Linked DNA regions of Homo sapiens. The protein of the gene in region 2 interacts with the protein of the main gene of each other region in a pairwise test. Each region holds a gene or a part of one and is shown on either strand. Other genes may lie near its edges. The genes, in order: RIGI and ZC3HAV1.

The links.
Region 1: the proteins of ZC3HAV1 (region 2) and RIGI interact in binary tests that used the Homo sapiens proteins (3 or more experiments, as listed by UniProt).

Annotation. Positions count from the first base shown.
Region 1 is NC_000009.12:32,478,522-32,489,716, forward strand, and holds part of RIGI (antiviral innate immune response receptor RIG-I), read right to left. Parts: intron 10,931-11,195; coding exon 10,823-10,930; intron 10,367-10,822; coding exon 10,213-10,366; intron 9,683-10,212; coding exon 9,424-9,682; intron 9,113-9,423; coding exon 8,950-9,112; intron 6,759-8,949; coding exon 6,654-6,758; intron 6,623-6,653; exon of another isoform or gene 2,977-6,622; coding exon 2,819-2,976; exon of another isoform or gene 1,834-2,818; coding exon 1,698-1,833; exon of another isoform or gene 1,651-1,697; intron 1-1,650.
Region 2 is NC_000007.14:139,070,248-139,081,442, forward strand, and holds part of ZC3HAV1 (zinc finger CCCH-type antiviral protein 1), read right to left. Parts: intron 9,997-11,195; coding exon 9,223-9,996; coding exon of another isoform or gene 8,857-9,222; intron 8,407-8,856; coding exon 8,305-8,406; intron 6,163-8,304; coding exon 6,039-6,162; intron 3,784-6,038; coding exon 3,609-3,783; intron 1-3,608.

The DNA.
Region 1 (11,195 bases), on a different chromosome or scaffold from region 2:
CCATGGAAATCAAGAAAACACAAAAAATCAGTGCTTTATTGATTGACTGATTGATTGAGATAAGGACTCACTCTACCACCCAAGCTGGGGTCCAGTGGTGCAATCTCGGCTCACTGCAACGTCTGCCTTCCAGGCTCAGGTGATCCTCCCACCTCAGCCTCCCAAGGAGCTGGGACCACAGGAGCATACCACTATGCTCAGCTAATTTTTGTATTTTTTGTAGAGATGGGGTTTCGCCATGCTGCCCAGACTGATCTCCAGCTCCTGAGCTCAAGTAATCCACCCACCTCAGCCTCCCAAAGTGCCATGGTGACAAGTGTGAGCCACCATGCCCGGCTTAATTTATGTTGAGAGTTTAGACTTATGAACATGATCAAAAAATAATAATACAGATTAAATTTAGCTATTACATTGAATAGCACAAAATATTGAGAAACATTCTCCCAGTTTTTGAAAAACTATTATACAGTTCAGCAAAAAATTGCTTGCATCACTGGCAAACGAGTGAAGTTCCAACATACACCTTTGTTGTTTCATCTTTATCTTCTAACATTAATGAAACTATATACCAACAACCATATCAGAAAGAACCACACTTCTTTGTCATTGCAACCCTTGGTTGGCCATGGATACAAAAAATCTGCAAAAACCACCAAAAGCATTCTATGAGAACCAATTGGCTATGTGGAATTTACAATAAAGAATAGTTTATTTTTATTTATAAATTGTGGTTTGTATAACTCCTCTATATCAATAAAATAATAAGCTTATGTACATATATATGCATACATTTTTTCTCTAGTGGGTTGTTAAATATTAACCAGCACAGCACTGGTTACACATATGTACAGTAAATACTTAGGTAGAGGCCAAAAAAACCCCAAAATTATTAGCACTAATTACCTTTGGGAAAGAATTCAAAACAGGGAGAAGGAAAACTTTTTTTTGTTTGTTTAATATCTATTTTTTAATCATATGCAGGCAGTGAGATTATGTGCCATTTTGGTTTCCTCTTTATGTAAAAATATATATAGGCCAGGCACAGTGGCTCATGCCTGTAATTCCAGCATTTTGGGAGGCAGAGACGGGTGGATCACTTGAGGTCAGGAGTTTGAGACCAATCTGGCCAACATGGCAAAACTCCATCTCTACTAAAAATACAAAAATTAGCCGGGTGTGGTGGCGCACACCTGCAGTCCTGGCTACTCGGGAGGCTGAGACATGAGAATTGCCTGAATCCGGGAGGCAGAGGTTGCAGTGAGCCATGATTGAGCCACTGCACTTGACCCTGGGCGACAAAGCAAGACTCCATCTCAAAAAAAAAAAAAAAGTATACATAAATTATGGTTTTTTTAATATCGTTAAAACACTTTTTCATATTTTTAAAGCTTTATAAAATTACTAAAAAAGAACGTTAAACAAAAAGAATGCTACTGTCTGTGAACCATATGGGAAACACCCTTTGCAAATCTTGTTTTTCCTTCTTCTAAATAGGGAATGGTATAAGCAACAGACTCTTCCCATAGGTACTAGATTTCATTGAAGCTAAATAGTCCTACCATCTCCATCTTCCTACATCCAGGACAACTCCCTAAGCATCCCCAAGTTTATATATATTAAATGCAATACATGTTTGTTTTGCCATTCCAGTCACCAAGAATGCTACTGTGGCTTCCTCCTCTGAAAACACCACTCACCTTCAAATCTCTGAGTAAGATCTTGCTCAATCTCATCGAATCCTGCTGCTCGGACATTGCTGAAGAAGTCTTTCAAGTAATCCAGAGCATCTTTCATTCGTGCATGCTCACTGATAATGAGGGCATCATTATATTTCTGTTGAAAGTAAAAACTGTCTCAATATGCTTCCAATGTCTAACACATTCACTGTATTTAAGTTCAATTCGTTGTATTTAACGAATTGTTTTAAGAAAACTTTTCTTTTCAAATCTATTCCAACTTAGCTTTTTAAAGATGAATGGCCTCTAACAGTTATGTAACAAAATCTTTGAACCAAATACTGTTAAAAGAAAACTCAATTAGCTAGTAACATTAATTATCATCACTTTGGATTATTGAATTTTACCTTAGAAAAGAAAAACTGCACGAAAAACACATATCAAAATTTAAAAATAAGGAAAGTAAATCAACTTCCACATCAACCTGCCTCATAATTCCAACATTTCACTTGATTTCTATATACATCTGAAGCCATCACTAAATTGTCAGTGTACCTTCCAAAATGATGGCCCTGACCACATCCATCAAATGTACAACTAAGCTAACTAAAATTCTACAAATGCATGCTAATTGAATGCATTTTAATATATTTTCAATGGCTGGATAAGCAGAGGTGATAGCTGTCACTATAGTTCCTTAACTTCTTGGTGAGCCAGAGAACCTGGATTTCTGAGCATGGGGCGTCACCAAAGGTGAAGAAATGTGTGCTTCAGGACATAGCAACAGAACTTTCCACTTGCTGAGCTTTCAAGATGCTGTCACTGGACTGGTCTTGTATCTGGAATAATGTTCTCTCACAATCACCCAATTTTTTCCAACCATGTCAGTTAATGCTAGAGGCATGGCATAGAATCTGAGCCTTTATTTCAGTCCTGTTGCCTGCAGTATGAAATTTCAGAAAGGAAATCGAGATGATGTTGAATGGGACAACTTTTGGAGTTTGCTTCATAAGAACTTTCTGGAAAGGTTCCTAAGTGAGCTCTTGAGGACAGGATGAGAAGTTGATGTTATCTTGGCTTCCACGGTGCCACTCCCAGTAGGTGCTGTGACCAGAATACGACTCTTAAAAAGAGGAACGTACCCGCAAATGTGAAGTGTATAAAAACAGGGCTTTACAAATCCTGCTCTCTTCATCTTTGTCTGGCATCTGGAACACCATGCATGCTTTCTGAACTGTAACAATCCATTGTTCATATTTCTGTGTTCCAAATTCCCTATTTTGAATTTGAGATAAGTTTTCTGTTAAAAAAAAAAAAAAAAGTTTTTCACTGTCTCATATGGTCAGTCATTTAGGGTTATAAACAGGCCTCACCCTCTAATTTTCTTTTTCTTTTTTTTTTTCCTCGAGGCAGAGTCTCGCTCTGATGCCCAGGCTGTAGTACAATGGCACGATCTTGGCTCACCGCAACCTCCACCTCCCGGATTCAAGCGATTCTCCTGCCTCAGCCTGCTAAGTAGCTGAGACTACAGGCGTGTGCCATCACGCCTGGCTAATTTTTGTATTTTTAGTAGAGACAGGGTTTCACCATGTTGTCAAGCTGGTTTCAAACTCCTGACCTCAGGTGATCCGCCTGCCTCGGTCTCCCAAAGTGCTGGGATTACAGGCGTGAGCCACTGCACCTGGCCTAATTTTCTTTCTTACTCTCTGCAAACAGGATATTCCTCCTGAAATAGTCTTAAGTCATCTAGTTAAAACTATTTAACTGGATTCAGACTGGTGAAAAGGTGGAAGCAGGGTACCTGAGGTGGGAGGAGTAAGAAAATAGAAACTCATGTGACTCCATCACCATCTCTCCATCCTTCTGCTCCTTCCCCCATTGAGATAACACCACTGTGCTGCTGGATAATATGACAACCTCCAAACTGTTCTCCCTACCTCTTGCCTTGTTCCCTCCCTTGAGTTTTAAGCAGTGCATCTGTGTGTTTGTTTGTGTGTGTGTGTGTGTGTGTGTGTGTGTTTGATTGTTTCTTGAGTACTGTGTACCAAGAATCAAAGTACCTTACATTCATAATTTCATTTAATTTTCACAACCCATGAGATACATATTACATTTCATATATTGGGAAACTGAAGTTCAGAAAAGCCAAGTAATAAGTAATTTACCCATAGTCACACAGCAAGTACGTGGAGAAAGGGCAGGAATTCAAACCCACATGTGTCAGATGCCCAAGCTCTACTGGCTCTATGAGCTGACAACCAAAGCAGCCCAGAAATAAAACAGTAGACATGAAAAACCCAACTTTGCCTTTAAAAATGAAGAAGTAAAAATAACAGGTCTCAAGAGCTTCATCAGAGGAGGATATATAAAAGCAGGAGATTGGCCGGCCGCAGTGGCTCATGCCTGTAATCCCAGCACTTTGGGAGCCCCAGGCGGGTGGATCACGAGGTCAAGAGATTGAGATCACCCTGGCCAACAGGGTGAAACCCCGTTTCTACTAAAAATACAAAAATTAGCTGGGGGTGGTGGCACGCACCTGAAGTCCCAGCTACTTAGGAGACTGAGGCAGGAGAATCGCTTGAACCCAGGAGACGGAGGTTGCAGTGAACCGAGATCACGTCACTGTACTCCAGCCTGGCGACAGAGTGAGACTCTTAAAAAAAAAAAAAATCAAGGAGGAGATTTAGGACTCAGTTCACCCTATGTTCTGCTTTGCTGTGAACTTGGGCCTCCTGTTCTCCAGAGCAGCATTCTCAGGGCCAAGCATAGAATCGGCCCTCAAAAGACACTTATCACACATGCATCTGTCTGTGTGCATCTCCTAGGATAAGCCTCAGTTGCTTGGTTCAAAGCTGGGGCATCTGCTGTGGTCCAGGCTCTGTGTAGGGTGCTGGGGATAAGATGAGGAGACTATGGCTGTGTTCTCAAGCAGCTGAGTCTGTGAGTTACTCTGGTATCAGTTCGCCAGGGCTCCTCATGAAGAGCACAGTACAACAAAAGTCACAAGCAAGAGCTGTATTTCTGGGTTAAATTCTTCCCCTCACTCATTCATTTTCAATAATAGGAACAAAGGAGGCTACCCAAACAAGTAGTATTGACATGCTTCTTTCCAAGTTGCAGCTACAGCGAGGTGGCCAGCAGTAAAGAAGATGAGCCAACAGGTACTGATTGAACCTGGGTAGGTGTAAAAATAGCCTAAGCAGTTTAGAGATGAGCAGCTAACTGGATTCGGACTGGCAAAAAGGTGGAGGCAGGGTACGGGAGGTGGGAGGAGTAAGAAAATAGAAACTCACGTGACTCCATCACCGTCTCTCCATCCTTCTGCTACTTCCCCAATTCAAACCACATCAGTGTGCTGCTGGATAATATGACAATCTCCAAACTGGTCTCCCTTCCTCTTGCCTTGTTCCCTCTAACCCATACTCTACCCAGTGGTTAGAGGGAGTTTGCAAAATTGCAGATGAGAAATCATCCCACCCCACTGCTTAAAAGCCTTTAGTGGTCCTGCAGCCAAAATCCTGCCCCAGCTCACACACTCCTCCCCATGCTCTGGCCTCTGCTTGCTTTTGCTTCTCATTTCTGGCCACTCTCCTTTCAGCATTCTACAGGACTAATGGAAGTCCCTATACTCTTTCTAGTCTCCTGGCCTTTGCATATGCTATTCCCTGTGCCTGAAACACACCTTATCACCCCCACCACACCAGCTGCTTTAGTATTAGTATTACTTCTCTAATTTTGGTCTTACCATCAGACTAGAAATGCCCTGAGGCCAGGGGCTGTATCTTAGGGTTCATGCTGTATTCCCATCACCTAGCCCATTCCTTAGCACTAAATGAATGAACATATGCATGAACACATTCGGGAAACTGCTAAATCAAAAGGATTCAGGTAGGGAAGTAGTAGAATATAACATTGGAAAGATAAGTAGAACCTGGGTGTTCAGGCAGGGCTCAGACTGCAGGTTAGAGGCGTGAAGATTATCCTGTAGGCAAAGGGTTTTTAAGCAGGACAGGGACATGATAAAATGTATTCATGAAGACTAACTAGTTCATGAGAGGTTGAATGGAAGAGAGAGCAGAGGTAGGCAAAATCAGCTAGAAGGCTGTTAGAACAATTATAATAGAAATTAAACTGTGAAAGAAAAGGGGAGAGAAAAGCAAAATAAGTGTGAGAGGAGACACTCCATGAGGTGTCTTACAGACGTCACATTTAACATCCCTAAAACTCAAAACTCAAAACCTTGTACCTGCCAAGGCTGCTTCTAGTCCTGGTACCAGGACCACCCACTGGCATTCATAGAGGTGCCTAAGCCAGATGCCTGGGGGGAAATCAGCCCCTCCTGCCCCTTTCTCATCCCCACCCAAATCCGTTTAGCCATTCAATCATAACACTCACAGTTGGAAGCATCTCACATGTGTCTCCTTCCTTCTCCAATCCATCTCTACTGCCTCTCTTTGGTCCTTCTCATTCACTGGTATCTTTATTACGTCACTAATCAGTTTTAATCTTCACTTTTTTCCCCATTGTTTTTAGGATAAAATTCAAATCCAGGCCCTTCACTGTCTTCCCCTGGCCCATCTCTAGTCGCACTCCTTTAATGCTGGGAAATGTGCTGGGTGATTGTCCCTAGATATAAATCTGAGCCAGTAGAGGAATGGTGGTTTCATTCAGGTGAACAGGAAAGTCAGGAGGGAAAGCTGATTTAGAAGGTAGAGAAAGCAATGAACTGACTTAAGTATGGTTATTTTTCAGGTGCATGTGTCTGGATGAACTTACTTTGGATTTAAAAGGAAAAAAAGGAAGAAAGAAAGAATAGAGGAGGACATATAAGGCTCCTAAATAACCTATAATCAAGGAAGACAACCTCTGGATATGGTCTTGACATTGTCTGAACTAAGGAGAACACAAAAAGACGATAGTGAACAATAAATGGCTATTCCCCAGTAGAGAGAACACAAAATATGAGATTTATCTCACCGAGGTCTTTGCAGATTCTCTTTGCCAGACTCTCTGTGTCCCTCATCAGCTGAGCTATGATGTATTTAAATTTGTCGCTAATCCGTGATTCCACTTTCCTGAAAACTAGAGACGTCAAAAAAAAAAGAAAAAGAAAAAAAGAGTGAGTATATTTTCAGGAAGGACAGATTGTAGTTCAAAGTAGGTATCTCTAAAACCTTTCTCTGCCTTTGATACTTCCTCTGAAAAACCTAAGGTTCCAGGCTAACTGGCAGGTGGTCCAGATGATACAACAAATGCTCAAAATGCAATGGCTCCCTGTTGCTTCTTGTACTGATTCTAACACCTGTCTTTCATGGTGTAGGTCTAACTAGCTTCTTTTTTTTTTTTTTTTTTTTTTTGATTGAGACCAAGTCTCACTGTGTCACCCAGGCTGGAGTACAGTGGCGCGATCTCGGCTCACTGCAACCTCCGTCTCCCAGGTTCAAGTGATTCTTCTGCCTCAGCCTCCCAAGTAGCTGGGACAACAGGCGCACACCACCATGCCCAGCTAATTTTTGTATTTTTAGTAGAGACGGGGCTTCACCATATTGGCCAGGCTGGTCTCGAACTCCTGAGCTGGTGACCCACCCGCCTTGGCCTCCCAAAGTGCTGGGATTACAAGCGTGATCCACCGCACCCGGCCTAACCAGCTTCTTACTGTGGCTGTCCTGTTACCTCCTCTCTGATGAGGCGGGCATCTCTCATGTCTCTGCAAGTGCCACAATCTAACCCTGTCTCTGTGCTTTGATATTCTCCCTCCCCACACAGCTCCCAGCAGTATTCACACTGATCCTACCATTTATCAATATATTATTTCAGCCTAATTATTAATTGCCTGCAATGTGCCATGCTTTGATTATAGACAGTTGAAAGAACACACTTCATGCTCCATACAGGGCTGTGATCTTAAGGGAGAGAAATATACATGGCTAACTAACCGTAGCAGTTCTCTAACAGAAGTACATGTAAAGTGTAGCCGGGTGTGGTGGCTCACACCTGTAATCCTAACACTTTGGGAGGCCGAGGAGGGTGGATCACTTGAGGTCAGGAATTCAAGACCAGCCTGGCCAACATGGTGAAACCCTGTCTGTACTAAAAATACAAAAAATTAGCCAGGCGTGATGGCACACGCTTGTAATTCCAGCTACTCAGGAGACTGAGGCAGGAGAATCACTTGAACCCAGGAGGTGGAGGTTTGCAGTGAGCCGAGATCGCACCACTGCACTCCAGCCTGGGCAACAGCACGAGACTCTGTCTCAAAAAAAAAAAAAAAAAAAAGAAGTAGTACACGCAAAGTGTCACAAAACACAGGGAAAGTAACACCTAATTCTTCCAGGGAAGTCAGAGTTGTAGAATAAATACAGGAAGAAGAAAGAAGAAAGCAAGAGTAGTCATGTATATTCCATCACAACTTGGCAAAGAAAAAGAAAAAAAAAAAAGAGCAGTGATGTACAAAGGAAGCACAGACAAAAGGTGGGAGAGAGAAAGCACACGGCATGATTGAGGAGCCCAGAGGAATGCAACATGGTTGGGTTTATGAATGTTTGGAGGTGATGAAGCTCAGAGGGCAGGAGGAACCGGATTGTAAAGAAATTCATATGTGACACTGAAAAGTTGGGATCAGGTACATCAAAATCCTTACTTACAAGCAGCCTTCAAAAAGGAACTTATCTACACCACTCCCTATTACATGTCTATTTGTTCTACCTCAGAAATACAGTCACATACTACTCAGAGAGCAAGGGTGAAGTCATATATATTTTCTGTATCCCTCTCTTCCTTTCAGGGTTAGTGTAATAATAACATCAATAAACAACTGTTAGTCATATTAAAAAATCATATCTGATCTTTGGAGGAGTGACATCATGAATTCAGATCATTCCATTTCAACTAAAATGATCAAATACATATTCAAACAGTGATGACCACACAGGCACAGAGCATGGGAAAAGGCTGAGTGAGCCCAGCTCTTGGCTATCTGATGCCTAAATTCTCTCATCACCTCTTTTGCATTGCTAGTACATTTATAAGAGGTTTTTGGAAGCAAAGAGGAAGAATGTTTGCTCTCTACAGGCCACTTCTGAGGTTCATCCATTGCTTGGGATGAGAGCTCAGTTAGAGAGGCTAAAAAATGTGACTGTTACTCAAGTTCAAGGTTAAATATTTTCTACTAAACAGAGAGAGGGTCAAAGTTCAGTATTCGTCTAGATGGCTCTGAACTAGAGGTAGTAGAGAGTAACAGAATCTCAAAGGCTTGTTATTGGATCCAACTTACACTTCTGGGGCTTATAAACAACTTGCTCCAGTTCCTCCAGATTGTGTTTGACTGTTGCTATCACTGACGCATCAAGAGAAGCACACAGCTTGCAGATATAATCCAAGGCTTCATCTGTGTTTTTGGCATCCCCAACACCAACCGAGGCAGTCAGCCCAATGACCTGTAAGGAGCATTCAAAATCATTAGATGTCTGAGAAATGGTACAATGTTTCCACAACCCCTCATATAACTCTTTCCTGCTGGGGTAGGGCGTTTTTTTGTTTTTACTAACACACAGTGTATGGCACATGGAGGCACATAATGCATATTTACTAAGTGAACAAATGAATAAAGGAAACAAAATTCATAATGAGTTGTACAATATGGACTTGGGACCTGAGAAGGACATCTTCAGTGTGGCCATAAGAGTAAGAAAATAGGAGTTAGGAAGATTATAGCTCTTCTGAAGCATTCGTCTGACTTTGGAGATACCTGGGGCAGTGGGCCTGAAGATCCTCCAAGTTTCTGATCTAGATAATTAAACATGATCATATTGTACGGGTGTTGTTTACTAGTGTTGTGGCATTCATCAAATATCATCAAAGTAAAGATGGATAGTGATGGAATCGTTCCCTTTTTAAGGTTGTTCACAAGAATCTGTGGAGTTAAAATGATGATGTCATTGTTCTCAACAATCTGTTCCACTGGGACATTCTCAGCTGTTGCTCCAGAAATGCCTGTAACTCTATACCTGGGAAATGACAGAAATTCCATATTACTAACCACGATGTGGATAAGGAACCACAAAGATGAAATGCTAGATCAGAACATCAACTGATTAAATTCTCCCTGAGTCCAAAAGAAGAATAGCTGTAGGCAAGTCCTTAGCACAGAGCCTGACACATAGTAAGAGATCAATAAATCCAAGCTAGTTGTAATTTATAGTACTATATATTATTTTAAGTCACTAAGAGAGAAAAGAGTACGTAAAAGAATAATATCAAATAAATTATAAAATCACTAAAGAAGTTAAATGTGCCACGTAAACATCAAATTTATTCCTGAAGTCATTTACTCCCCATAGAAGGGCAAACCAGGGGAGTTTAAGTTTTCTGGTACATCTAACAAAAAAGACTTGAATCCATGAAGGGATAACATCTGGATTATAAAAAAGCTGAATCTAATATAAATTTTTTTAAATCATTTGTCAAAAACAAAACAGAAAACACATCAATTACATGAAGCTGGAGAAAAAGAAGTTGAAGCAACTATTATACCTACCCATGTCTTTCAAAGTATTTTGAGAATACAGATTTCTGCTGTTCATACACTGGGATCTGATTCGCAAAAAAGACAACTTTCCCCTTTTGTCCTTGTGGGAATTTTTTAAGATGATGTTCACATATAAGCAGTGAAACAAAGGTTTTTCCACAACCTTTTAACATGTAAGGAAAAAAGAAAACATGTAACTCATATATTAGATATTTCTCTGGAAAGGTGTTTATTTTTGGCTCTTCTAATACCACTGAGCTGACTAATTAATTGATAATTTAAATATGTTAATGATTACAGAATTTACACTATGACTAAAAAATATCAAGCTGCTCCCTAAGTAGCATGCCAACAGCCAGGACCCAAAAGCAAGCTAAAAGAGGACACTTTTCTTTACCTTCTCATGAAAGGTAAAGAAAATACATTAAATACATTAATGTACATAATTAATTAATTACATAATCCCATAAAAAACATTAGGATTATATTAGGACAGTTTTCTCAAAAGACACATGGAACAAGGAAAAAACTGAAACTTGCCCATTCTGTCCCAGTATTCAACAAAAGAAAAAAAAGGAAGCAAACAGAAAAACTATGTAAGTAATGGCAATAGGCTTACCTGTAGGAGCACATATTATTGTGTTTTTTCCTTTCATAGCAGGCAAAGCAAGCTCTAATTGGTAATTTCTTGGTTTAAATGGGCTGTACAAGTTTGTATCAGACACTTCTGGAATACAAAAGGAGCAAAATTACCAAACAGTTCCTGCTCTGAGGAATCACGGCAATAGCTACAGTCTAATGTCCACAAATTCTGACTCCAGCAAGAAGATCCTCATTGGAGAAAGTTTAGAATCCTTTCTCTTGGTAACCATTCTAGCTTTTCCACTAATTTGAAGTACAGAATTCTCTCAGTGACAAAGTATTGATGGCAAGAAAGAAAAAAAAAAAAACATGAATTATTTTTTATACAATCATGGAAGGCTAACAGAAAC
Region 2 (11,195 bases):
TGAATGTTACATTCTAAAAACTCCACAGTTTTCATGGGAATCCAGAATATAAAAATAAAAATAAATAAAATAAAAACTCTACAGCTAACACAGACTAAATGTCCCAGCGAGAACTTTGTATTAAAAACCTCAGGAGGCCGGGCGCAGTGGCTCACATCTGTAATCCCAGCACTTTGGGAGGCTGAGGCGGGCAGATCACGAGGTCAGGAGATCGAGACCATCCTGGCTAACATGGTGAAACCCCGTCTCTACTAAAAATATAAAAAATTAGCTGGGCGCGGTGGCGGGCGCCTGTAGTCCCAGCTATTTGGGAGGCTGAGGCAGGAGAATGGCGTGAACACGGGAGGCGGGGCTTGCAGTAAGCCGAGATCGCGCCACTGCACTCCAGCCTGGGCGACAGAGCGAGACTCCGTCTCAAAAAAAAAAAAAAAAAAAACCTCAGGAAGGGCTGGGTTGGGTGCGGTGGCTTACACCTGTAATCCCAGCACTTTGGGAGGCAGAGGCAGGCAGATCACCTGAGGTCAGGAGTTCAAGACCAGCCTGGCCAACATGGTGAAACCCCGTCTCAACTAAAAATACAAAAAATTAGCCAGGCATGGTGGTGGATGCCTGTAATCCCAGCTACTGGGGAAGCTGAGGCAGGAGAATTGCTTGAACCTGGGAGGCAGAGGCTGCAGTGAGCCGAGATCACAACATTGCACTCTAGCCTGGGTAACAAGAGCAAAACTCTGTCTCAAAAAAAAAAAAGCTCAGGAAGTTTCTTGATGTTTTATTAGAGAACATGATTGAACTTGTGTAAATTTAAATTTAAATACAGTATCTTTCCCCCAAATAGTTCCTTTTGGTTTCTGAAACCTTTTTTTTTTTTTTTTGGAGTCTTACTCTGTCACCCAGGCTGGAGCGTAGTGGCACAGTCTCGGGTCACTGCAACCCCTACCTCCTTGGTTCAAGCAATTTTCCTGCCTCAGCCTCCCAAGTGGCTGGAATTACAGGTGCACGCCACCAAGCCCAGCTAATTTTCTGTGTGTATTTTTAATAGAGACACAGTTTCACCATGTTGGCCAGGCTGGTTTTGAACTCCTGACCTCAGGTGATCCACACGCCTTGGCCTCCCAAAGTGCTGGGATTACTGACATGAGCCACCACGCCCGGCCTCCTGGAACCTTGATGTAACTAGAATGCAAATGTTTGTTTGCCAACCCTTCCCCTTTATATCTTACTAAAAATTCCAATTATTTGACATAAAAACCATCAAGACCTATAGCTTATTTTTATTTTAACCAAGGCTAATTAATTTGGGTTTATAATTTTATTTCCACAGGCGCCTGACAGAATCGCTTATTTGACATCATCCTTGGCTTGAGCATACAAAGAATCTGTGCAAAGTTTAATATCATAGGTGTTTTCACACACACGGGAGTTTCAGCAGAACTCTGTTCCACAGAGATGCTACATGGGCCACCACAGGAGAGAGAAGAGCAACAAGGAGGGGTCCAGGAGACAGCTCTGAGCCCATATCCTATTCCACCAGGGCAGCCCTGCTCTACTCTAGTTGGCTCGTTTAGAGTCTTTGAAAGATGGTTTGATAAAATGTATCTGCTGCTAAGACAGTTTGGAAACCAATATGCTGCTGAATTCATGGTAGGGCTGTTTGTGGTTGAGGACCTCACCACAGCACACAGGGTTCCCGCCATGTGGCCCACTATAGGAGGTGTTTTTCTCAGGCCTCACTAACATAACAGAGTAGTGCCTCTCCCAAGTATTTTGTTTGCTTTGGCAGTTAGGCAGCTCAGAGCCAAATGTATAGCCCACTGACTCGTAATTATTAGTTCCGTGCAAAAGTAATCAGTTTTTGCCATTAAAAGTAATTACCACCAACCCAAAAGTAATTTTACACCAACCTAAATATGTAGAACCTTACGCTGCCATTCCTTTGTCCCTGCATTATCTTTTTTTTTTTGGAATCTCACTTTTGTCACCCAGACTGGAGTGCAGTGGTGCAATCTCGGCTCACTGCAACCTCTGCCTGCAGGTTCAAGCGATTCTCCTGCCTCAGACTCCTGAGTAGCTGGGATTACAAGCACGCGCCACCACACCCAGCTAATTTTTTGTATTTTTAGTAGAGACAGGGTTTCACCATGTTGGCCGGGCTGGTCTCGAACTCCTGACTTCAGGTGATCCACCCCACCTCGGCCTCCCAAAGTGCTGGGATTACAGGAGTGAGCCACCGCACCCAGCCCATGCATTATTTTTGGCTTCATTTTAATCTCTTGCTTTCATTTTCTGTTTCTCATCACCCTGATTCCATTACCTGCTTAAGGTCTGTTTTCTCTCTCTCTTTAATCCTATGAGTTAAAGGGAGGAAGGGACACTGAGACAGAAGGACAGAGGCTCTGCTCACCTAAACTTCCCTCCCTATTACTATGCCCCCACTATGGGTCAGCCTAGGATCTTCTAGTTCCAGTCCTTTAAGTCCATCTAAATCCAGACTCTGAATGAATAGTAGTGACTATCTGTACCAGATGTGGTTTCACTGCTTGAGTGAATTAACACATTCCCTGGTCTAATTAACCATGCCATCATCCATACAGTCCTTTAAGTTCTCACTCTCACCCTCTTTTCCAGCTCAAAGCAGTAGTCTCTGTACATTTTATGTGTTTATACATAGAAAGCTATCTCAAGGTTCCACCCTCCCCTCTCATGGTGAGGAAAGAGGGAAGTGCAGCTGACATGTCTCAAGCGGTTCCTTAAAAATAATTAATATATGGCCGGGCGCAGTGGCTCACGTCTGTAATCTCAACACTTTGGGAGGCCGAGGTGGGCGGATAACCTGAGGTCAGGAGTTCACGACTAGCCTGTCCAACATGTTGAAACCCCATGTCTACTAAAAATACAAAAATTAGCTGGGTGTGGTGGTGGTGCATGCCTGTAATCCCAGCTACTCGGGAGGCTGAGGCAGGAAGATCGCTTGAACCCAGGAGATGGAGGTTGCAGTGAGCCAAGATAACGCCATTGCACTCCAGCATGGGTGATAAGAGTGAAACTCCATCTCAAAAATAAATAAATAAATAAAAATAAAAATTAATATATACTTTAATGTATGACTGCAATTGGAGTACATGTTTGCTGAAAAAAAATTGAATATAGCTGTGTACAAAGTAAAAAAATACCACTTCCTCTACCACACTCCACGGGTAACCATGTAGGCTTCAAACATTTTATTAATAGTGTTCTTTTTATTTTATTTATTTATTTATTTTGGAGACAGAGTCTCAATCCATCCCCCAGGCTGGAATGCAGTGGCGAAATCTCAGCTCACTACAACCTCCACCTCCCGGGTTCAAGAGATTCTCCTGCCTCAGCCTCCAGAGTAGCGGGGATTATAGGCGCCTGCCACCACGCCTGGCTAATTTTTGTATTTTTAATAGAGATGGGGTTTCACCATGTTGGCCAGGCTGGTCTCGAACTCCTGATCTCAGGTGATCCACCTGCCTCAGCCTCCCAAAGTGCTGGGCTTACAGGCATGAGCCACCGTGCCCAGCCAACAGTGTTCTTTTTAAGTTGACAAGTTTAAACAAGAGCCCCCTACAAGGAGGAACAGTGCTCACCTCTTCTCCATACTGAATCCATGTGCCAGATTCATTCTTCCAATACCAAATCCATTTGGTGGTGAAGACAGAATTGGCTGGCTTGGTGACAGAAGAAGGAGTGGAGAGGCGTCGGATGGGAAAGGAATCACAACTCATTACCCGAAAATTGATTGTATAACTTCCTACAGAACAGCTGAGAGAGAAAAGTATTAAGTTAACATAATGCTTCATTGACCCCTGTTTTCTACAATCTCGTCTTCCCTAATGAGAGCACAGAATTAAACTTTCAGGGCTAAAATAGATCTTCAAGTTTTCTTTCCATGGCTCCAGGTCCTACACATAAAAGAAAAACGGAAACGCAGAGAGGAAAGTGACTCGCCTGCACCACATAATTAATGGTGTTACATAATGTATTCTTCCCTCAGAAAATATCCCAAAATAAAACTGTGCCCACAAAACTCCTGATTGGCTCAATGTTATAAAGTAAGTTAGAAATTCGCATTTGGTCCATTTTTAAAATTATTTATTATTATTTAAATCGTTATCAAAATGTGGAGACCCTTGCAGAAAATTGGCAAGGTTAAAGTGATTTTCATAATAACATTAAACATTATTTGCTTTTTTCACTTTCATTCTCTCAGGAATACACGATGAAATTTTCCAGAGGCTACACAATATATGATTTCACAGCAGGTTGAATAAAGAAGCGGATATGAGAATCTAGTTATCTTCTATTATGCCAGACATTAATTTGCAAAAATATAAAACTCCTCTCAATAAATTTTTTGTTTTGGAAAACAGTTATTTTATAATTATCCATATAAATATTATATATAAATATGTAAATAAATACACACAGTTATATACCTGGGTATGTATATTAAATGGATATACATGAATATGTATATAGTATTAAATATAGTTACATGAAACATGTTCATTATGTTAACATATAGCAAGCTTATTCTTATTTTTAAGTGAATCAAATATATAATTGTTCTCAGTTTTAATTTTTAATATGGTAAATATTGATAGCTATATTCCACACAAACAGAAATTCTTTGGGATCCTGAATACATTTTAAGTGTTGAGGAGTCCTCTGACCAAAAAGTTTGAGAATTGCTGCTCTAAGAAAGACCTCTTAGATCAGTGGTTCTCAATCAGGAACGATTTTGACCTCAGTGGGTATTTTACAACATCTGAAGACATTTTGGGTTAGGACAACCAGTGGGGCTGGTGGGGGGGTGGTGCTTCCTGTCATCTGTGGATTGAGGCTAGGAATAGTGCTAAACAGAATCTGGCCCAAAACGTCAGTAGTGCTGAGGTTGAGAAACCCGGCTCTCCACTTGCCTGGGAGCGGAAATATAGACCTAGCAACCAGAAAGTAGCTCATGTCGCCCTCTAGTGGTAAAAATCCAGCAACACAGAATCTCCACCCTCAAATCACTAAATTCTCATATGATGAAAAGTAATGTAACTTTTCCCCCTTAAGAATTTCCTTATAAAACTGGGATGTTTCTTATATCCCTGCACACCATAGATAAATACGGTCATATGGGTATCACCCATTTCAGCTCTTCCAGAAGGAGAAATGTTTTTACTTATTTATTTTTGAGACAGGGTCTCACTCTGTCACCCAGGCTGGAGTGTGGTAGCACAATCACGGCTCATTGCAGCCTCAACTTCTTGGGCTCCAGTGATCCTCTCACATCAGCCTCCCGAGTAGCGAGTAGCTGGGACCACAGGTGCGTGCTACCATGCCTGGCTAGTTTTTGTATTGTTGGTAGAGACAGGGTTTCATCATGTTGCCCAGGCTGATCTCGAACTCCTGAGCTCAAGTGATCCTCCTGCCTCAGCCTCCCAAAGTGCTAGGATTACAAGCATGAGCAACCACGCTCGGCCAGAAGCAGAAATGTAAGGTACCCTCTTAGATGCCTTGCTAGAGAAAATAGCAAACATAAGGGAGGTATTAAATGCTAAAGTATACAACAAAATTCTACAGTAAAACTATATGAAATTATTCAAACCGTGTTTTTAAATTATGAAGTTAAGCCAAAGGCTCTTTTGTCCTAAATCATTTAGTACTTTTAATAGTTCTGTGATGAACTGATCAGGATACGAGCCGGACACTGAACTGTGTTTTTTTGCAGGACACAGACAACTGTCAACTAAACAAATAATCATGTCACTGTTTGTTTCATTTGAGTTAGCAAACATTCCCAGGATCTCTGGTATTAGCCAGGCTCAGTGTGACCTCAAACCCACCCAGCTGTGGTTTTCCTTCATTAACTCGGCAGGCATTTGCCATTTTTTATCTCAAGAGGTATTTCACACTCGAATGGGATTCTGATGGAAAAGTGTTTTTTTCTTTTTCCCCTGAGCCTAGCACTAATGCTTCCCTTTGATAATGTTGGACTCTTGAAAGCCAGAGTACAGCCACCAACTTACAGGTGGATTCCGGGGTTACAGTAGCCTTTCTCGATCGTCTCCATGTGCTCAAAGTCCGTCCAGGTTTTACCAATAAGCATCTGCCACCGGTAAGGCAGATGGAAGTGGACTTTGCTGCAGCTACCTACAAAGACAAAGAAGGGGTCTGAGGGACTGTTGAGCAGGGATTCTAACCAATTCAGTCAAGTTCACTGCCAGCTTTCCCCATCCATGCCTGCCCTGCCCCCTGCCAGACAGGTTCCATCTATACCAGCTGACACTGCTGTGTGTCCATTATCCAGGTTCCTTCATTACCTTGGAGACTCATCAGAAAACAAAAATTCAGGCAGAGTGTGGTGGCTCACATCTGTAATCCCACCACTCTGGGAGGCCGAAACAGGCGGATCATTTGAGGCCAGGAGTTCACAACCAGCCTAGCCAACATGGTGAAATCCTGTCTCTACTAAAAATACAAAAATTAGCCAGGCATGGTAGTGGGTGCCTGTAATCCCAGCTTCTCGGGAGACTGAGGCAGGAGAATCACTTGAATCTGGGAGGTGGAGGTTGCGGTGAGCCGAGATCACCCCACTGCACTCCAGCCTGGGTGACAGAGTGAAATTCTGTCTCAAAAAAAAAAAAGAAAAAGAAAAGGAAACAAAAATTCCCCACTGCCCCCAAAGTCACTCCACCCAGATAGAAATTCGAGGTAACCAGAAATTTAGTTACCCTTTCTGCACCCCCCCAAGTGTATGAAGCCAAAATGCTCTCCAGCAGAGGCAACAGCCTTTATTTCCTTGAAGCCCTGGCCTACAGTTCATCTCTTCCAGAAAGATTCTCTTAACGAATCTCACTCCATCCCCATCTGACTTGTATTTTTTGCATTCCTTTAGCCAGTACCCAATAGTCAGTTGGGGGTTAATTTTTTATATGTTTTTACTTACTTCACGCAGTTTTCCCATTTGCAAATTTTTTGTTTGTTTTTGTTTTTGTTTTGAGGCAGAATCTCACTCACTCTGTCGCCCAGGCTGGAGTGCAATGGCGCAGTCTTGGCTCACTGCAACCTCCACCTCCCGGGTTCAAGAAATTCTCCTGCCTCAGTCTCCCTAGTAGCTGGGATTACAGGCATGTGCCACCACGCCCAGCTAATTTTTGTATTTTTAGTAGAGATGGGTTGTCACCATGATGGCCAGACTGGTCTTGAACTCCTGGCCTCAAGTGATCCACCTGCCTCAGCCTCCCAAAGTTCTGGGATTACAGGCGTAAGCCACCATGCCTGGCATTTTATGGATGTTTTCATGCCCTACCTTAATTATAAACTTACTAAAGAGAAGGCTGCACTATGGTTTAGCTTACATCCCCCTTACATATTTGGCACAGGGCTAGGCATACAAAAGACAGCCATTGCAGGAATGCCGGCTGAAGAATGAATTGATGTTATAAGCTACAGTACAGGAAGACAGAAGATAGTTCTGTTTTTCAAAATTTGCCTTATATTATGTTTAAATTGTTTTGAAATATTCAAAATGAAGATGTGTGACAACTTCAAAACAAACAAAAAAGACAGGTTTAGACACTGCAGGGACACCCATAGAGTGGCCCTACTTGAGACTTGGCTGACTGAAAAGTACACAACCACTCATTATAGTCCACACCTCACACTTGTTAGAATGGCTGCTATCAAAGACAAACAGTGGCTGGGCACAGTGGCTCATGCCTGTAATCCCAGCACTTTGGAAGGCCGAGGCGGGTGGATCACTTGAGGTCAGGAGTTCAAGACCAGCCTGGCCAACATGCAAAAACTCCGTCTCTACTAAAAATACAAAAATTAGCCGGACGGGGTGGCACACGCCTGTAACCCCAGCTACCTGGGAGGCTGAGGCAGGAGAATCACTTGAACCCAGGGGGCAGAGGTTGCAGTGAGCTGAGATTACACCACTGCACTCCATCCTGGGTGACAGAGTGAGACTCCGTCTCAAAACAAACAAACAAAAAAGGCAAACAAACACACACAAAAAGAACAAGTGTTGGTGAGGATGTGGAGAAATTTGAACGCTTGTGCATTGCTGGTGGGAAAGAAAAATGGTATAGCCACTATGAATAATAGTTCCTCAAAAAAAAAAATTAAACATAGAAGTACTATATGATCCCCCAACTCCACTTCTGGGTATATATCCAAAAGAATTGAAAGCAGGGTTTTCAGAAGGCATTTGCACACCCATGTTCATAGCAGTGTTATTTACAATGGCCAAAAGGTGGAAGCTTACAGAAAAGTCCTTAGGTTACTCACCATTAAGCGGACAACCCTTACACAGATGGTCAAGACAAATTTCCTCTGAGTCATGATCATCCACCCTAGAAGATGTGGTACTTGTGACATCAGATAAAGAATCTATGAAACAAAAAAGGATGCATGTATGCTGATCTTAATGTTTAAACCAAAAATCAAAGCACTTGGTCTCACAATGGGAAAGAATATCTGAAATGGGGGCCATGTTCAAGAAAATTCCTATGATTTATGTTTTGCCCATGAGCATCTAGACAGCCCCTCCATAAAACAAAAATGTGGACCTCAGAGTCCTGTGAAAGCTATGTTTATTTCTTAAATCATAGTTGAAATATTCCTATTGTCAATAAATGTGGCAGTTTATTCCCTGTGGTTCTACTGGTTGGCCCTTCCCTGTCTTCACTAGTCAATCTCCTCACCAGACCACCCCATAACCAAAACCCTCTAACTCTCTACCCTTTAAGAACTGGGGAACATCCAAGGAAAAACCACCAGCCATAGCCACTCTGCTGCAGACTCAAGACACAGAGGCCCCTTTGTCCTTCAGTGACTTACACTGAGCAGAGCCTGTTGTCTTCCTTGTGAGCTCGCTGGCAGAGGAAACAGGAACCTGGGTGCAGTTCTGCCCTTGGGCCCCCCAGACTGCAGCTCTGTTGCTTGAGGAAAGGGCAGCAGGTGACTGAGGCAGAGTGCTGACTTGTGCAGGGGCAGTGGATTCCCCAGGTGTGGTGGGGACCAGGTTCCTCAGACTCTGACTTCCAGTACGTAACATATCTTTTTCTGCCTTGACTGCCATTGTTAAGCCAAAACCAGTGGCACCAGTTTTTTCTACATCAGTAGTTTTATCCACTACTTGACTAGAGCCATTTGGTATATCATGAACAAATGTACTAGCCCAAAGTGTCTTCCCTTTGTATTTACCGTTAACAAGTGCTACTCTTGGGTCAGCATCATCTGCGATTCTGCCAGTGGCCTGGACATCTCGGGAAGCAGGTCCAGCATCCTGAATCCTAGGTGATGATATTTCTCTGTGACCGCTGCTAGTGCTTTTGTAATTTAAGGATCTGGTAGAAGTTATATCTGTGGCCACTCCATCAGCATTATTATTAAAAAGAGGGCCAGGCTGGATGTCCTGAGTTCCACTTTTGCCATTGATGATCCTGTAGTCTGAGGAAAGCAAGCCTGTGCCCTTTCTGGTGGTCACAGCTTCAGGTGTTTGCAGAGAGCCAAGAGAAGAGCGGGCGGCAGGTAGCGTGGGAGAAAACACAGTCTTTCTCCTGGCGCCTTGGTCATTCGTCCAGGATGTGAGGCTCTTCCAGTTGGGGGCTGATGTTGAATTGGAAGCAAGGTAAGTGCTGCCTGGATTTCCATGCAAGAGGTCCTCTTGACTGCCGTTCTCTAAAAACCTCTGGCTTGTCCCGGCCTGACTTGTTCCTCCAAGATCAGTAGCCTTGGACGAGCCTGAGGGAGGCCGAGCGCGATCCTGACTCCCCAGATACGTGAACTTGCGGGTGAGATCGTCCACAGGCGCGTCCTCCAGGGAAGCCCTGTGGCTGATCTGATCTGGACTAGGTGTGCAGGACCTCTCAGCAGACGCTGAAGCAGACGCAAGAAATTCTTGGCTGCCCTGAAAGAACCGATCTCTACTCTTGCTTCTAGCCCTATATGCCATGTTTCTACGATGTGAAGAAGGAGCTAAGGGGAAAAAAAGCCAAAATGAAACAAAATAATGAACATTGGAGTTAATGTGACTGAGTTCCTACCACCCTTCCTCCTCTTCACTTTTGTAGCTTTGCTATCCAAGTGCTATCAAATTACTTGGCGTAATCTGATGTGTAAAAATCTTGAAGATGGGTGGTTTGACACTGACGGTTTTTTTTGTTTTTGTTTTTGTTTTAAGAGATGGAGTGTTGCTCTGTTGCCCAGGCTGGAATGCAGTGGCCCGACCACAGCTCACTGCAAGCTCGAACTCCTGGGCTCCAGCGATCCTCCCACCTGAGCCTCCTGAGTAGCTGAGACTACAGGTGCTCACCAACTGTGTCAGCTGATGAAAGAATCTTGACATTCTGCCTGCACGGCAGAGCACGTCATTCCATGGCCTAGGATGACAGTGAGGATCAGCTCTAGGATGACAGTCCCCGGCTCTCTTCTGGGACTCAAAGTAGCCCCCAAACCCCAAAACTTTTAGGTGGGGCTGTCCACTATCTCCTGGTCCTGAGTCAACGTTCATCACTGGGGTCAATGGAGAGATAGATTAGGGCAAATCAGAGAAGATTTTCCAGAAAGCATTCGATTTTGCCCATATCGTGATACGGGTGTACCTGGCTATTGACAGATTCACAATGCTCAAAGAAACCAACAGAAAATGAAACCACAGTCTAAAGGCCTGACTTTGTTTAAGCTGGAAATTTTTCCAGTTTTCTTCATCTCACTCCATAAGGCCAAAGTATATCAGAAGTCAACATCGACAAAGCAGTGTGGCCTGCAGGGAATTGGCCTTCCTCTAGAAACTTGATAGGTCACACCCTTCTGGAAGCAGGGAGGAAGGAAGGAGTTAGGGTGTGTTTGTGAGCGCGTGTGGAGTGTGTGTGGCGTGCATGCACGTGATGTTTATGTGGGGTGTGTTTGTGTGCCGGGGGTACATGTGGAAGATGTGCATGTCTGTGTTTGAGGCACATGTGCACGTGTGGTGTGTGAATGTGAGGTGTGCATGTGTGCTCGTGTGTGTGTGTGAATTGTGCTTTTTTGTGTGGGGAAGGGGTAGAAGAGACATTTTTTTTCTCTTCCAAACCCAGGGGGCAGTAGTTATGTAGTAAAAGCAAACACCCTCCTCCTGTCAAGAAAAGGCTTAACTCAGGAGATTAACTGGAAGTGAAAATATATACAGATCTTTC